Regions from separate parts of the Homo sapiens genome. Here region 1 is linked to region 2. The links come from fine-mapping of genetic effects on gene expression. Tissue or cell type: fibroblasts. Region 2 holds a variant in brackets; the other region holds the start of a gene. All regions are shown on one strand. Distances are from middle to middle.

Region 1 (8,869 bases), 43 kb after region 2:
AGGAAAAAAAACCCACTAATGTCAGATAATTCTAAACAGGATTTAATACCAAGTTTATTTGTATAGTTTTAACATAGATGATTTGTTATGAATGCAATCATTGTGTAAAGAGGTAAGATTGCACTTTTATTTCTGTTTAAACTTTTCTGAGGATAGTTTGTTATTTCAGAAAATCATTTTCCACTTTTCCACCAATGACAGGCCCAGCATTGGTAATTGAATGGCTAACATACCTGTTTTAATCTGTAGCTGTTGTATTGATGGAGACACCATCCATTGGTACAAAGCGTCTAATTACTACTATTTCTTTTAGCAGTGCTTCTTATATTTCAATGCGTATATGCATCACCTGGGAATCTTGATAAAATACAGCATCTGGCCGGGCACAGTGGCTCATGTCTGTAATCCCAATGTCCCAGTGCTTTGGGATACTGAGGAGGGAGGATCACTTGAGGCCAGGAGTTCAAGATCAGCCTGGGCAAGATAGCAAGACCCTGTCTCTGTAAAAAATCTAAAAATTAGCCAGGCTTGATGGTGCATACCTGTAGTCCCAGATGCTCAGGAGGCTGAAGTGGGAGGATCCCTTGAGCCCAGGAGTTTGAGGTTACAGTGAGTTGTATGGCTCCAGAGATCCTGTCTTTTACATTATTAAAAAACAAACAAACAAACAAAAAAAAAAACAGCATCTGCATCAGTAGGTTAAAGTCTGATGCTCTGCATTTCCAACAAGCTCCCAAGGGATTCTGATGTTGCTGGTCGACCATTACACTTGGTGGCTAATCTTGAATGTAGTCTTGAGCTCGAGTATTTACAAAGTGAAACACATATTACTTTATTACAATTTTTTCTTATTTTATTAAGGCCAATGCTTTCTTTAAAGTACTGTAAAATATTTTCTATGAACATGGGATGTAGGTAGGGTCAAGAACCACTGCTCTAGAAGTCTTACACAACAGATACCTAACATATACAGGAATATTCCTTATAGTACTGTTTAATAGCAAACAAATGGAAACAACAAAAATGACCATCAACAGAAACCTGACATAGTTATATAACAGAGCACATACCACCTAACAGTAAAAGTAAATAAACTAGAGCTACCTAAATAAACATAGATAAATCTTGGCCAAGTTGTGTGAAGAAAGCAAGCTAAATAAAGATATCTGTATTTAAATAGTCTTAAGACAATCAAAATAAAACTATATATATATAATGTTCATAGGATAAAGGTATGTAGTTAAGTATCAACACGTGGATATAGGAAGGATGCATGTCAACTTTGGGTCACTGGTTAGATATCGGGGGGAAAAGGGAACAGCATTTAAGAGAGGTATTAACATACTAAGGAAACCTCGTTTTTTGTTTTTGTTTTTCTGAGACAGAGTTTTGCTCTTGCTGCCCACGCTGGAGTGCAATGGTGCTATCTTGGCTCACCACAACCTCTGCCTCCTGGGTTCAAGCGATTCTCCTGCCTCAGCCTCCCGAGTGGCTGGGATTACAGGCAAGCACCACCACACCCGGCTAATTTTGTATTTTTAGTAGAGACGGGGTTTCTCCATGTTGGTCAGGCTGGTCTCTAACTCCCGACCCCAGGTGATCCGCCTGCCTCGGCCTCCCTCCCAAAGTGCTGGGATTACAGGCGTGAGCCACCGAGCCTGGCCGGACACTTCGTTTTAATTGGTAGTTTTGTTTGTTTAACTGGGTGATGGGTACATGGATATTCATTATATTGTATGGCACCAACATTTATATTGCTATGTTAGTTCTCACTTCACTTGGACAAAACTCTTGGGCATGAACAGGTGTTTGGAAAACACTGCTCCAAAGCAAAGGATTCAGGACTAGAGAAGACCCAAGTTCAAGCCTCAATTCTACTTCTTACTAATTGCTTAGCTTTAGGCAATTGAAATAATTAACTTATCTGGGCTTTATTTATTTCATCTGTAAAAATTCCACAAACAGTGAAGTGGCTCACACCTGTAATCCTAGCACTTTGGGAGGCCAAGGCGGGTGGATCACCTGAGGTCAGGAGTTGAAGACCAGCATGGCCAACGTGGTGAAACCCCATCTCTACTAAAAATACAAAAAATTAGCCGGGAGTGGTGGCGGGTGCCCGTAATCCCAGCTACTCAGGAGGCTGAGGCAGAAGAATCACTTGAACCCGGGAAGCAGAGGTTGCAGTGAGCCGAGATCGCGCCATTGCACGCCAGCCTGGGCAACAAGAGCAAAACTCCGTCTCAAAAAAAAAAAAAAAAAAAAAGGCCACAAACTCACCTTCCCTCTCTCCAACTCACAAGGCTGGATTCGACAGGCAAATGGGGCAATGTATGTGAGAAATTTTAAAGAGTAGGAAGGGTAGGGGGAATTTTCAGAATTAAGAGCAAAACTTTGGATAAATCAGAAGTAAAATCTACCAGTAAATAAACCAACCAATAAAATATACTCTATTTTCTTGTCATCACTGCTTCTAAAGATCTTAACACCAATCTTAATACGGAAGAAATTTTAATTCTTAAATGATGGCATAGGGAGAGTCATTCTCCTTATCTTTATGCTAACTGTTCATCAAATGATTGAAATTCATAATATCAAAACAAAGTAAGAGCACTGCATTAAAAAGTATTCTCATTTAACTTATATCAATGTCACATAACCAGAGTAACTGTTGCTTACATGGTTCTCACTCCCCTTTTTATAAAGTGAGCAGGTGGCACATTTTATCAGCCCTATATTACAGATGGAGAAAACTGACTCAGATGTGGGATAGCGTGCCTGGAGTTGTAGACCAATTCAGTGTCAAACTTGGAACAGACACTAATTGCTTAATTCTTCTGTGTTCATTAAGCTACTAAAAACATTATTTTTTCATGATGTTTTTTGGTGATTTTGTTTGTCCCAGGAAACAGAAAATTCTTTGTCAGCAGTCATTTCATAAACATTTCAAAATGGGCAAAGATACTCAAGGAAACAAGCTACTCATCAACTAGAATACTGCACACTAAGGGACAAAATTAAAACTGCCTAGCCTGCTAAAAATCTAATCCTGTCCTTGCCAATTAACCTTATTAACACTAGAGTAGGAGAAAAGAGAGGTCAAAATATAGGTGAAGGTGCCATTCATTTCCTTCTGGATTTCAAATGATATGACAATTACTGCACAACAGAGATTTTTACCTCTGCTGTTCCTTAAGTAACACGACCCCTATTCTCCAAATAAAAACTTACCAACAAGTTGAGCAGTCTCAAATTAGAATACTAGCAATCATGACAATTTTCAAAATACTGGCTATCATTAGATGTCACCCAACTGAAATTCATGCTATAAACATATGTAGAGAAACTCTTTACGGAAAAAAGTTCATTTTAATGTAAATTTCCCTGTTAATCTAAACAGATTAACGTTATTACAACATGTATCTGGCTTTCTACTCCGACTCATTAGGTATTATAGTTTCATATGTTGGCACAAGATCTCCAAAGATTTATTAGAGGCATAAAAAAATTCCAAATGAATCATCTATAGATCAAGCATCATATATCACAAAAAGTATTAAACAGGAACACATTTCATAAACAGCGAAATTTAAAGGTCACCCTCTGTATTCCGTTATTCATCCTTTTGCTTACCAAATCTACTTCACACTGACTTAAAGCATCATTTACAAAAAATTCTCTTCTGGCATTGGCAGAGATCTCACCAAAGATCAAAGATCTGAACTTTTTTTTTTTTTAAACAAAAACCCCAGGTTAAATACACTCTTTCCTTCACGAGAGCCCCCACACAGTACAATCTAATTTGACATAACTTTGTTTCGGGGTTAAAAAAAATCCCAAACAAAACCTTTAAATTTTCCAATTCAAAAACGATTCCTGATAAGCCTACCTTAGAGTTCGAAAACAAATAAGATTAAAGCCCAACCATCTAAAGAAAAAGAACCCTACGACAGCCCCACCGGAATACACAAATCGCCAAGCCCCGTGCAGATTCAATCTAAAATCGCGCCCGACAGAGATATAAGGACATTCAGGAGAAAGCTTTTAGGCACCCGCGAATCTCTCAGTGCGCCAGTGAGGGGAATGGGAACCTGACCCCATCTTTTCATCCACTGAGAGAAAAGCAAAGGAAATGAAATGGAACCCTTCTCTTCACCGAGGAGGACCAAAGACCTTCTTAGAGTGTCGGTCGGTCCTCCCTCCCCCACCCCCTGACTCCGGCCGCTCCACGGACCGCAGGGACTGTCCTACCGCTCCCCTTCACGCAACCATCAGAGAATCCTCTCAAAAACACAGACCCGATGAGGAGTGGCTTCCCCGCCTTTCCCCTGTGCCGAGAAGGGATCCCGGTCGCCAACAACAAAGACGCTTCCCGCTCCCCTCCCCCCGCCGGCCCGGGCTCGTCCCTCCCGCGCTGCGGCTCCCGGCCTAGCGCCCCCTCCCCGAGCCGGGCTGCGGCGTCCCCAAACCCCGAGGCCGCACGCACCTGCACCTGAGCGGCCCGGGCCGAAGCGCCGGGCAGAAGGGGTCGAGAGAGAACCGCAGCCGACGCGCTGTCCTCCACAAGGCGAGATCCGCGCTCCGGGCGCCGTCCGACTCTCTCCGCCTGCAGACTGGCCCGACAGAGGAGCGGGGACCAGGGCTACAGCCCCCGGCGCCGGGGCGAAGAAGGACGGCGGCGCCCCAGGGGCCCCGCTCACGCTCCCGAGTCTCGCCTCGCGCCGGCCCTGCTCCTCCACAAGAGCTCGCGTTCTGCTGACTAACGGCCCCGGTGCGGGGCGCTGGAGCGGCCGCCGCTGCCCGTCGGTTGCTCTCGGGCCTCACGTCCCGCGCGGCCGTGGTCGCAGCCGCCGCCGCCACCGCCTCCCTTTCTGGCACTGCAGACGCCACCCAGACCTAGCCAGGTCTTCCTTCTCTTTAATCCTGCTTTCTTTGCTCCTCCTCAGCCTGCCAAGCGCGAGGCTCGTTCCGGTAGCGGGAGGAAGACTGGAGGGGAACGGAGGGGACGAGCACAATCCCCACTGAGCCAGGAGTTGGCCACTGACTGGAGGAAGGTGCCAAAGCTGACCCCGGCTCCAGCCTACTAGCGGGCGGGGGGAGAGACGGAGCCCAGCCTTGCCTCACTTCCACCAATCAGAGGCCGCCCGGCAGGGTGGGAGGCGCTCTGAGCTCAAGGAGAGGCTGAGCTCGCTCAGCAGGAGGCGGGGATTGCGGAAAAGAAGAACCAATAGGAACAAAGGTTCCCCGCCCCTTTGATTTGATGGACTACACATTCGGGCCAATGGGGGAATTCTCATTTCGAAGAAAGTGGGACTTGTTCTCCGGGTTTGAGAAAGAGGCTGCGCGGAGCCGGAGGGGTCGAGGCTGCGCCGCGTGGAGTGGCTTGGCTTAACAGCAGGGAGGGCAGAGCGATGCTCTTTGACCTCCCAGAAGAGTCACGTGGGCTGACCCAGAGCCGGGGCGGAAAGGCTGCGTTTGTTTCTTCCGGGTCATTGACAGAAGCGTCAATTCCTGGGAGTAGTTCGTTGGTTTTCTTTCCCCTCATCCTTTTGCCTGCTCCCGGCGAGGGGTGGCTTTGATTTCGGCGATGAGCTCCCAGAAAGGCAACGTGGCTCGTTCCAGACCTCAGAAGCACCAGAATACGTTTAGCTTCAAAAATGACAAGTTCGATAAAAGTGTGCAGACCAAGGTAGGAACCTGCCTGTTGCACCGTCTTTGACTCCAGGAAGGAATGGCTCACTGGAGAGGGGAGAGAGGAAATGAGAGGAGTCGGCTGGGGCGAGTGTGGACCGCAGCCCAGAGTTAGTCTTGGCTGCAGTGCAACTCTTTCTAAAATGTTATTCTCACGCCCTTTCTTTGACCTGGACATGTTGTCTCCTGGTAAATATTTGATGGTCAGCACACTTAACTAATTGCACAGAGTGAACAGGACCCTAATGAAATCTAAGGTGCAGATGGGGCAGTTACGTCGTTCAGCGTTCCCATCTGGATCACATTAGCAGAGGGAAACGAGGATTGTGGCATGAGTGGCTTTTTCAAATTTTACACCAAGTTTATGCAGCTACGATTTTTTTTTCCAAAAACCCCAAGCCCATAGAGGAAATGTGAATGATTAAGCTGTCTTAGGCTGTCCTCACTAGTATTGTGTGAAATTTCTGTTTTGTAACAATTGTTTTGAAGATAAAAATATTTGGTTAATGTAAAAATACTTGTTTTGCTGTTTATCTTTAGCAGGACTTCTGTAAAGTCCTGCTAAAAAATTCAGACTGTCTAGATAGCCAGAGGACTTGGGTTGTATATAAGTACTAATTTGCAGGCCGGGCGCCGTGGCTCAAAGTGCTGTAATCCCAGCACTTTGGGAGGCCGAAGCGGGTGGATCACCTGAGGTCAGGAGTTCGAGAACGACCTGGTCAACATGGCGAAACTCCATCTGTACTAAAAATACAAAAATTAGCCGGGCGTGGTGGCGGGCGCTTGTAATCTCAGCACTTTGGGAGGCCGAGGTGGTGGGCGGATCACCTGAGGTCAGAAGTTCGAGAACGACCTGGCCAACATGGCGAAACTCCCAATCTGCTAAAAATACAAAAATTAGCCGACGTGGTGACGGGTGCCGGTAATCCCAGCTACTCGGGAGGCTGAGGCAGGGGAATCGCTTGAACCCTGGAGGCGGTGGTTGCAGTGAGCTGAGATCACATCACTGCACTCCTGGGCGACAGAGCAAGACTCCGTCTCAAAAAACAAAAACAAAAAACTACTAATTTGCTCTTTGCTGTGAATCTCTCTCCCTGTCTCCATAGCTGTATGGAGAGAAAATCATTGACAACAGGGGCATATTAGGGGCCAGCATCACTCAGATAAACCTAATATTCACAAAAGTTATGGAGCTCAAATTTACTAGGTGTGCGGCTTGAGTGAGTTGTATAATATTTAATTTCTCTGAGCCTTACTTTGGTCTCAAATGCAAATTTGTCAGGATTGTTGGGAGGCGAAACTATATGATTATGCATAAATGGCCTAGGTCATAGTAAGTGTTCAATAAGTGATTAATTTCCCGACATTGATTGGGAAAGCAAAGTCATCTGTTTTTGGTAACCTGTGATCTCCTTTTCCTTTCCTCTTTCTTTCTTTGCTTATTCTACAAATATTTAATAAGCACCTTCCGTGTGCAAGGCCCTGTGTTCATAGGTATACCGTGTTCAAAAGAGCTGACTCTCCCTTCACGGAGTTTATAGTTTCTAGGTGATATGGGCAAAAAGAAAGCAGAAAGATAAGTAAATACAAATTATGATAAATATTGGTGAAGGGCAACACAGCTCAGTAAGGGAGAATAAGGAAGAATATTTTAAATTAAGTGCTCTCCTTTCCCCCACTTAGGTTGAGAGGTTTTTCAGAATGAAAACCTGAAGCAACATTTGGGAAGACTTTCCCAAGTTTGCTCCCATTATCAATAGGTAAACCAGAATAAAAATAAAAAGCTGCACTATTCCAAATAGATGTCTGCGTCTTGTGTATTCTTACCCTAAGGTTGTGCACAAACATTTGCTTTTGATTGTTTTTCATGTCTGTTTTCGTAAAAAGCAGTTTTAATGAGTATTTAACTATAGTGTAGCTTCTCCTACTTGTACTTTTCATTGTGCATTTTCTTGGTGTTATCTAATAACTATGTCATTCTGGTCCTAAATGTTTTCCTGGGTCTCAGGTTCAGTCACTAAGTTGCATTTGACCATTTTTATCTTTTTATCTTTAATTCCTTTCCCTCTTTTAAGTTATGAAAAAGTCTCATTTGTTAATCAGGAGGACCACCAGGCCACTTCATTATTGAAGGTTCTGACAAAAACAACACAAAATATTTTACTGAGGAAAAATCATTCGGTTGATTGTTCATCTGTGTAATGAATAGCTAATAATTGTCTGTGATCATAACAGATTCTTGCATCTGCTATGAGTAGCCATCTAAAGCCAAGACTTTGTCAGAAGCATCTGATCCTAACTTTGTGCCTGTTCTTTACACTGGAAAGCTATTTGATCTGGTGACATCTAACAAAGGAGTGATAAAAAATGCACGGTTCTCTGTAACTCCCCATAAAGCAAGCTTGTCCAACACATGGTGCAGGGCGTCTTTGAATGCAACCCAACACAAATTCGTAAATTTTCTTAAAACATTATGAGATTTTTTTGTGATTTTTTTTTTTTTAAGCTCATCAGTTGTCATTAGTGTTAGTGTATTTTATGTGTGGCCCAAGACAATTCTTCCAGTATGGCCCAGAGAAGCCAAAAGATTGGACACCCCTGCCTTAGAGGACTGTAGTAACAATTGACTACTTGTATTAAATACTTTATGATTTGGTAGGGGTCCTACATGATAGTTTTTCTTTTCCTCCTCTGCCAAGCAGTTTGTTAGGACTCACTGCAATTAGAAGTTGGATAATTACAGATGTTTTATTGGAAGTTAATATAGGTAAAGCACTCATTCTCAAAAGGACACAGATGATAGCTTTCTTTATATGCTTGAATATACTCTAGAAAAGGAGAGTATATTCAAATTTTGTGCCATTTCAAATGGCCAAACTTGGACCAGGGAATCAAAGTAACAAAAATAGGTTTCAGCTCAATATGAGGGAATTATCTGACAGTGAAGGGGCTTGCGCCGGGATTTGTAACCTCCTCTTCCCTGGGGTTATTTAAAAGAGGTCCCTCTGGCCATTGGTCACCGGTACCCTCAAATGACTTATGGGGATTCAGAGGGTCGGCAGTGGGAATAGGTTTAAATCTTTTCTAGTCATTTAGTACTGAGATGTTGAGCAGATCAAGGCAGCCTTCTTTCCCTTACTGGAAAGGCAGTGATGTCCAACGAAAAGAGCACTGGACTAAG
Region 2 (8,869 bases):
GAAATCAAAATGGAATACAAAGTCTCAAACGACCTTACACACAGTACATCTAGTTCGACTTTTCATTTAAATCTGGAATTTCTTCTGTGACACCTATGACAGATGTCATTCAGCTTCTGCTCTGTCTCTAGTGATAAGATACTCATTAATGCTTAGGAAGCAATCCCTTTCCTTTATGGACAAATAGCCATAAAGTTATTTCTCATACTGAGCTTTAATCTGGTATTGTGTAATTTTCACCCAGTCCTGCTCTGAGAGCCAGATAAAATACATTGTACATGCCTCTCAAATATTTGAAGGTAGCTATTACTCCTTAGTCACATCTTTCAGCTGGTTTGGGAGTTTCAGTTTACGGTACCTTTTCCAACTTGGCAAATACCTCAGGATTTGCTCTAATTTGTAAATATCCTTTCACTGCATCCTGGAATAACATTAGTAATGTAAATGTGGTTTGAACAGCACTTTGTGTATCATTTTCCCATGATGTATTTTTCACCACTCTAAAATTAGATCAGTTTCTACACAACTGACTTACACGTTATTTCCAGCAAGCGAAAATCTCCAGATTTTTTCATCTATACTCTTGACAAGTGCTGTTTCCTTTTTCTATCAATGGCCTATTTGTTTCTAGGATAAAGACTAGGGTTCACCATGCCATCTGTAATTGTGTTCCTAATTAGCAGCCTCATGCATAGGCCAAACTTTCTTTTTTTTTTTTTTTTTTTTTTTTGAGACAGAGTCTCGCTCTGTCACCCAGGCTGGAGTGCAGTGGTGCGATCTCGGCTCACTGCAACCTCCACCTCCCGGGTTCAAGTGATTCTCCTGCCTCAGCCTCCCAAGTAGCTGGGACTACAGGCGCGTGCCACCACGCCCAGCTAACTTTTTGTGTTTTTAGTAGAGACAGGGTTTCACCGTGTTAGCCAGGATGGTCTCGATCTCCTGACCTCGTGATCCACCTGCCTCAGCCTCCCAAAGTACTGGGATTACAGACATGAGCCACCGCCCCTGGCCCAGTCTTCATATTTAACTGCACCTTCCTTCCTCTAGGCTTCCATATATTATTCATTCCCCTCAGCTAGGAATGCTTCCCCTGGGTCACCCAGGTCTACCCAATTCTTAGTTATCCTTCAAAACTTAGCTGAAATACCACTTCTCTGGGGGACTCTTCCTTGCCCTGCTCCCTATGTTCCCCTCCCAAAAGTACCTTTTACCTGTTACAATACCTTACAAATCTCCTTCAGCCCTTATCAAAATAGTAATATTTGTGCAATGAGGTGCCTGTCTCCTTAGCTATACCATGAAATCTATGAGGACACAGTCTGTCTTTACCTAGCACAGGTTTTTGCATGATTTATACATTCAGTAACTGTCTGTTGAATGAACGAACACTGAATGAATAGGATCAATATTTAGATTTCCCCAGGTAATCAAAGAAAACATTTAGCTAAGCCCTGGGTTGTATGCTGTACAAAGAAGAAACTGTATAGGTTACAAGACAATCTTGAGAAAGAAAGACCTCTCCAAAAAAGTGATGATATAATTTTAAAAATTTTCAAACTATGTCCTATAAAAACGAAGGGTAATTTTTTTTCACTCTTTCTAGTGTGGGGGTGGGGAGCATGGAAAAAGGCAAATAAGCACAGGTCAGTGGTATATTTGTTGTTTTACTGTTAATTTGACACATCTGAACCAAAGCATTCACAATACTTGATATACTTTGAAGAGAGTCATATACTATAGTCTTAAACATAACCACGGAACGAGCAGAACAATTAAAACTACATAAGGCCTTAAAATATATCCACAGTGTGTATTATTTCCATATTCATTCATTTACAAATTAGACTACATACCATTAATTTTATTTTTATTTTTCATTGTTTTATTCAGACAGGGTTCATTCAAGGAAAGGCAACTTAGTTTTTGTATGTGTGAGCTTTATTTTTTTACTATATTGGTTAATATAAAAGTTATGAATTAAACGTATTCTTATCTCCTATACCCAGGAGTGAATCCATGAAATTCTCAGATAGTAATCCAAAACAATAGGTCCTATTTTTAAAAATAGCTAAAGTGGGCCAGGCGCAGTGGCTCATGCCTGTAATTCCGACACTTTGGGAGGCCAAGGGCAGATCATGAGGTCAGGAGTTCAAGACCAGCCTGATCAACATGGCAAAACCCTGTCTCTACTAAAAATACAAAAATTAGCCAGGCGTGGTGGCAAGCATCTGTAATACCAGCTACTCAGGAGGCTGAGGCAGGAGAATCACTTGATCCCGGGAGGCAGAGGTTGCAGTGAATCAAGATCGCGCCACTGCACTCCAGCCTCAGTGACACAGCAAGACTCCATCTCAAAAAATGAAAAAAATAGCCAAAGTGAAAAGGGATCTGATAGCCAGTCTGTTAGTGGTCTTTAAGATCAACTCATGGACTTTCGGGATTTCATACAATGAAGACTACTGCAATTCTATGAAGACTATGAGATCAGTCAAAATTTAAAACATCGTATACAAAATCATTCTTGAAATCTCTAAATGCCTTTTAAGTAACCAGCATGAAAATTTTAAGTACTTGCCTCACAGTACCAAACTTAGAAGTCAAAACTAGTTAAAATTCAGTGCTATCATGACTTCTCATTTACAAGGTAACTCATTGGTAAATTAATAGATGGCATAAAAATTAAGATTTACATCTTTTTTAAAGGATAAATGTATGTAATCAGAGTATACAGAAAATTCAATGTATTTTACAATAAAATAACTTTAAACCTCTATCCCTGTACAACAGGGTTTAGGTTAATTCTAGTGAACTTGCATGGTTTTAAATCTCTTTTACAGTTCATTCCATTATGAGTACTTAAATTGCTTTAGATACATAGCTTTTTTCAAAATATTACAGTTGTATTCCAGGATAAGATTTAATATATTGAGATGTTTTAAAAATATTTATAAATTTGTTTCTAGTATGCAAAAGCATTTGGCAATACTTTTACAGCATTTGATTTTATAGAATTAAAATCTCATACAGTACTCATCTTGATGTTAAAAAAAAATTCACAGAAAAAATATAAATTACACAGCCTGACTGCACGGTACTGTTATTTCCAGTTTTTAGTTCTGGTAATTAAAACCTTCATTAAGTCTGTTAACAAATCATTACCTGTACATTTATGAAGGCAACTGACATGATTTGCAAACAAAACCTTCAGGTTTTATGTTATTTACCAAAGAGTGCAGTTCAGCAAGAAAGGAAAACCCAGTAGCAAATTTACAGAATATTTTACAAATTTACCAGTTCCTGTGACACAAACTGTTTCAACCTTTCAAGATACTGTCCATAAAGTTCCACATCATTGTGACCTGCTCCTTCAACCCAGAGAGGCTCCACAGGTCTTTGGCAACGTTCAAACAATGCGAGGCCATGTGAAAAGTCAATGACTTCATCTTCAGTCCCATGAATTATTAATACTGGAGAGGTTATCTTAGAGATTTTGTCAATGCTGCAGGGAAAAAGGAAGGGGGAAAAATGCAATAAATTAACTATGTAAAGGAACATATTCTTGTGCTATATCAGACAGATAATTCAAATATGAGAATTGTATGAATCAGTTCAGAAGGTAAGAATGTCTCCTGAATTTCCAGTAAGATTCAAAAATTGCCTTTTACATACTCCCTACCTTAAGATTATCTGAGGAAGTTATTTTCATGCACTTGTTTTGATGGTTTTGCTGGAATCACTCAATGCTCTTGTCACTCTACTGTACCTTTCTACAATGTTGACTTTTGGCACAGAGAAACTTAGGTGTCCAGAAGAAGAGAAAATTTAAGAACCATTTCAAGTATGCGCTAATTTCACTTTCTGCACTCACTATATTCTTTCTCCTAGTCTCCTACTAAAATGACAGCAAAATGTTTTATGTTTTTGTTCTTGTTTGAGGATAAAGATACAAAAACAAGGAGAATGTACTAAAATATAATAAAATGTTGGAGCTGGAAAGAAGATTAATGTGTGAAACAATTTATTAAAAGAAGAAAACACAATTTTAGGCAGATAGATGGTAAAGTGATGAACGAAACCAATTTATACAACAGAATACCCCAGAAAGCTAAGGAATTACCATGGTGATGAAGGGGGTGATTGAAATATACAGGATTTTTGCAAAGTCTGTGTAAGAAAGTTAGCCTCCCCTTCCCAGTTCCTTTTGCCTGTTCATATACCCAGAAACTGCCTGCCCCCAAGACTGGAATGTCTGTGAACTAGAAGACTGCCAGAGTTTAGAACAGAGGTATCATAGAGACAATGGAAACATATACATTTACATACTGGCTACTATGAACCCATTTTCCCTATGTGGCTCCCAGAATGCTGGTAGTCAGGCCACTGTCCTCCAGGAGGGACTTTTAGAAAGTCTTCTTTGGGCCAGGTGCGGTGGCTCATGCCTGTAATCTCGGCACTTTGGGAGGCCGTAGTGGGTGGATCACCTGAGGTCAGGAGTTCGAGACCAGCCTGATCAACATGGTGAAACCCCGTCTCTACTAAAAATACAAAAAAAAAAAAAAAAATTAGCCAGGCATGATGGCGCATGCCTGTAATCCCAGCTACTCGCGAGGCTGAGGCAGGAGAATCACTTGAACCCTGGAGGCAGAGGTTGCAGTGAGCCAAGATCACACCATTGTACTCCAGCCTGGGTGTCGCAGCGAGACTCTGTCTCAGAAAAAAAAAGAAAGAAAGAAAGAAAGAAAGAGCCTTCTTTGGAGATTATTATCAGATCAGCCCTTTAGTTGATCTGCTAAATCTTGATTGTCTGCTTATATGTAAGAGTAAAGAGTTGATCAGCTCCTTTACTTACATATAAGCAGGCAACCAAGAATTATCAGACATGAGAGGAGAACACTTCAAATAACAGAGGAATCAAAACAAACACTTTTTTAAAAGGCAACTTGGAGGACACAGAAACTACACAGACAATTCTTTTTAAGAATCTTTAGAGAAAGGTATTATAATAAACATAAAATGAAAATGGAATGTTGACAATGAAAAAACCATCAATGAAATAATCTAAGGCTGCATTTGGTAAGAATAAATACTTGGGTTTACTATCTGTTGTCAGAAAGATGTTCAGCGGTAGAGGAATTAAAACTTGAATAAAAAATAAAAAGAAGTATATTATCTTTTTCAAACAGTTTATTTTTATTTTTTGAGACAGGGT[C/T]TCGCTCTGTCGCCCAGGCTGGAGTGCAGTGGCACCATCTTGGCTCACTGCCATCTCTGTCTCCCAGGTTCAAGGGATTCTCATGCCTCAGCCTCTCGAGTAGCTGGGATTACAGGCACGCATCACCATGCCTGGCTAATTTTTGTAATTTTGGTGGAGACGGGGTTTCACCATGTTGGCCAGGCTGGTCTCGAACTCTTGGCCTCAAGTGATCCACCCGCCACGGCCTCCAAAAGTGCTGGGACTACAGGCGTGAACCACTGTGCCTGGCCAAACAGTTTATTTTTAGTGTTGCTCTCTGTTGGTGCACCAGAAATGAAAGAGGGAGCTAGATGGAGACATAAGTTGACAACAACACTGATATGGGGATACTCAGATACATCCCTATCATTTTTACCATTCAGCTAGACAGAGGCAGTATAATGCCTATACCCACATTACCTGAAACAAAAACAAACCCAAAACAAAATAAAAACCCAAACATGCCCACAGCTTGCCCTTGTGATAAGATCATGTGTTCACATACTTTCCCTACTAAAGTGATCCATTACTGGCTAATGATGAAAATTCTGTGTTTTTAAAATAATTCTTGAACCATGTGATGACTTTGCCTTTGGCCCATCGGCCATTCACAAAAAAAATCCTTTGTATTGCTGCCAATTGGAGAAAGGAGAGAAAACTAAAATTTGCCAACTTATTTCTTGTCTTCTCCTTGAGAAAAATAGGCCATTAATTTTTTCCAACTATGAAGAGTAGGTGGGAACTACCTCCTGTCTTGAGAAGCATGAAGGAAAAGTAGCTACTTTCCTTTCAAATACATCTAAGTATGTTTGCAGGTTTTGTGGCAGCAATACTTACTAATCTAGTTAATTTAAGATTCAACTTTTTTTCAATTCACTTCTTTTGTAAGTTAGGTATCATTAATCAGATATTTACTCATTTTAGCTTCTACCTGTTCTTCTCTAACATCAAGTGTCTCACTGGATGGCCCTATCCATTAGCACCTCAGGGCAGAAACATGGTAGTCATGTTCAAGTTTTTCTCTTTAGCATCCTACACCCAGTCTGATACTCAGTTCTGTCAAATTTATGTTTCAAATTAATTCCCTTGTCTCCAATACTAGTGCCACCACCTGAGGTGTAAGGCCCTCAGCAATTTTCATCTGGATTACTACTCCTCAAACATTTCAGCCTTCTGACTGGTCACCTGCTAATACCCTCTTTACAAATTAATTTTTCATAATTTCTATGTGCTAATATATATAAAATGAAGTTTATGGTTGAGTGAACTGTGTCATGAATACTTTAAATGATGAAAAAATTCCCAAGTTTCTTGGAATTTAACTATTTTGAATATTGCTACTTACTTTGGGAATGCATCAAAACAGTAGGTCTTCTTGGTATCAGGAAAGGCAACTCGCATTCCCGAAGTCAGAGGAGAATGAAGAATAACAGCAGCACTCTCATATCGAGCAGCAAGATCCACAGACGGTACTGTCCCTATACTTTGGCCATATATAATCACATTTTCAGGGCGAATGCCATATCTACAAAGTTCAGGCGTTAAAAACAAAAACCAAAAAAGTTGGAGTGATATGAAATGTTCCATCATTCCAAAGGATTTGATCTTAGAATAAGACAATGTCAACTAATCCATTTTTTAAACTTAAGTTTCTTAGCTATTACTGTTAGTTTTAACATTACAATAAAGTCTGTATCATCAGTTTATTTCATGTGTTTCTCTACTTCATCTTTTGGAAGAATAATTGCTGAGGTATTTTAAGATTTCAATCTTAAGAAATAAATTTATTAAATAATTTATTACACTATAATATTTCAACCTAGCTTACTGCTGACTAAGCTTGGGGCATATCACTAATATTTTAATGAACTGATGTTGAATGAATAGGTCATATTTATTTTCCGTTCAGTGTAACAAAAGTTATTTATTTCTCCACACATCAAGAGTGGCTCATTTTAATTTCCAAAATTGGTCATATTGATGAACTGTTACATATAGTTATGGTATGAAATGAATATATGTATGGTTTTAGTAAAGGGCAAATTATGATTTTACGATTTTTCTTAAAATTGATCTTTGCTTAGTTGTAGAAATGGACTAATGGTTGAAAAGATAAAAAAGAATTCCAAACACCACATGGTCCAATTATTTATGATTAGACTTTACGCTAAAATTACAAGGTACTATTTTAATCCCTTTAAAATGGCCACAGGTTTAAATAGATGAAAACTCATTGACTCAATAAATATTTATTGGGTACCTAGTATGTTCAAGGAACTGCTTGCTACTTGTCTACAGTATAATCATCCCAAATGTAAACTACTGCAAGTGTAAGTACAGTGCTACCTGAGCTAATGAATGTGGGCTTAAAGGTTATAGTGACATTAAATACACCTTTCCACTTAGAAGGCAGACAGCAGTCACTCTGGCAGCTAAGAACATAACAGCTGCTTTTGGAAATCTTTTGCAAAGGTAAAATATCTTTCTAAGAATCTGGATATTCACCAGGAAAGAGCGAGGGAAACTGTCCGTGTGTTCTCTTCCAGGGGCATAATACTATTTCAACTATACAGGTAGTAACACAGCTCTCCCCATATAGTTTCTTCAAGTCAGTACTACACAAGCATTTGTATAGGACACAGAAAGTGGGGCTCTGTCTACTTCAAATTGACTCTAAATATTAGCAAACTCAGAAAAGCTTTTTTCTTTACAACAGACCTAGTTGCACATATTTCATACGAATGAAGAAATTAGGAGAATGAACATTTGCAGCATGACCACAGTTCTTGAGGCTGCATTGTTGCTGTCAGCTGAATATCAGCATTGTTGGTGGCAATCATGAAATTTGGGCTACAGCTAGCAATGACAATGCTCAAGGATAGAGTCGCAGAGGTAGCTGACAATTAAGCATGAGGGGACTCACAAGAGTAACAACTGCCTAACAGTATGAGCTAGAAAGGAGTTTAGAGACCATCTAATCTAGAGTCCAGCTGCCTAATGAGCAGATCTTCAAAGTCACCAGTAGATGACAGCTCTATAATTAGAACCCAGGTATACTGACTCCCAGTTCAGTGTTTTTTACCTCTGAAGCACACAGATGAGGAACTCAAGGACTTTGTGGGAAAGGTGCATAGTGAATGCCAGGCCCCGAGTTTCTTTTGGTCCATCAGAAGGTCAGAAATTGGAGTTATTATGGATATCCAATTTTCCCAAAAAGGACATTCCAATGTTCATTCATCCCAAAAATGAACATTATTTAAGTTCATTATTTATTTTCTCTCTCCTGGTTACTTAAGTCCTAACTTTTAATCAGGCAAATAAAATAAAAGGCATGTATTCTAATTACACACATTTCATTAGATGACAGAATTCCAGAATTGGAAAAGATCTTGGGGATCATTTAATTCAATCTCTTCATTAAACAGATGAGGAAACACAGGCTCAGAGAAGTAATATTTCCTAAAGTACCTACACTTATGAAACTCCAACTATATTTTGGTTTCAACACGAAAGAAAACACAGGTCTAAAATTCTAAAATATAAGTGCTAAAATAGTATGTGGGATTATTGATGAAATCTGCCCATTCCTGATTAACACTGGCTATCAAATATGTTAAAAAAATTAAGGCTGAAAATCAT

Which allele goes with the higher level. Alleles are on the strand shown, and positions count from the first base shown. SD is a standard deviation of normalised expression in the study named.
For the expression in fibroblasts of the gene that starts at base 5,043 in region 1, T is the low allele of the variant in region 2 and C is the other (moderate effect, 0.46 SD a copy in GENCORD).

What was found.
Region 1: it holds the start of ABHD17B, and the variant in region 2 is fine-mapped to the expression of ABHD17B in fibroblasts (GENCORD, PIP 0.95).

What each region holds. Positions count from the first base shown.
Region 1 is chr9:71,906,151-71,915,019 of GRCh38, forward strand. It overlaps ABHD17B (abhydrolase domain containing 17B, depalmitoylase), which reads right to left and starts at 5,043. Exons shown (of 4, transcript NM_001025780.3): 1 at 4,484-5,043. It overlaps C9orf85 (chromosome 9 open reading frame 85), which reads left to right and starts at 5,489. Exons shown (of 4, transcript NM_182505.5): 1 at 5,489-5,686. The coding sequence starts at 5,585. RefSeq lists a silencer at 4,567-4,806 and enhancers at 5,257-5,566, 5,637-5,686, 5,697-5,756.
Region 2 is chr9:71,863,508-71,872,376 of GRCh38, forward strand. ABHD17B (abhydrolase domain containing 17B, depalmitoylase) reads right to left here. Exons shown (of 4, transcript NM_001025780.3): 3 at 6,576-6,755; 4 at 1,645-3,499. The coding sequence ends at 3,280. Among named protein-coding and RNA genes, the nearest start is that of ABHD17B, 43 kb to the right of the region's middle. The variant C/T (reference allele first, on the strand shown) is at 5,210.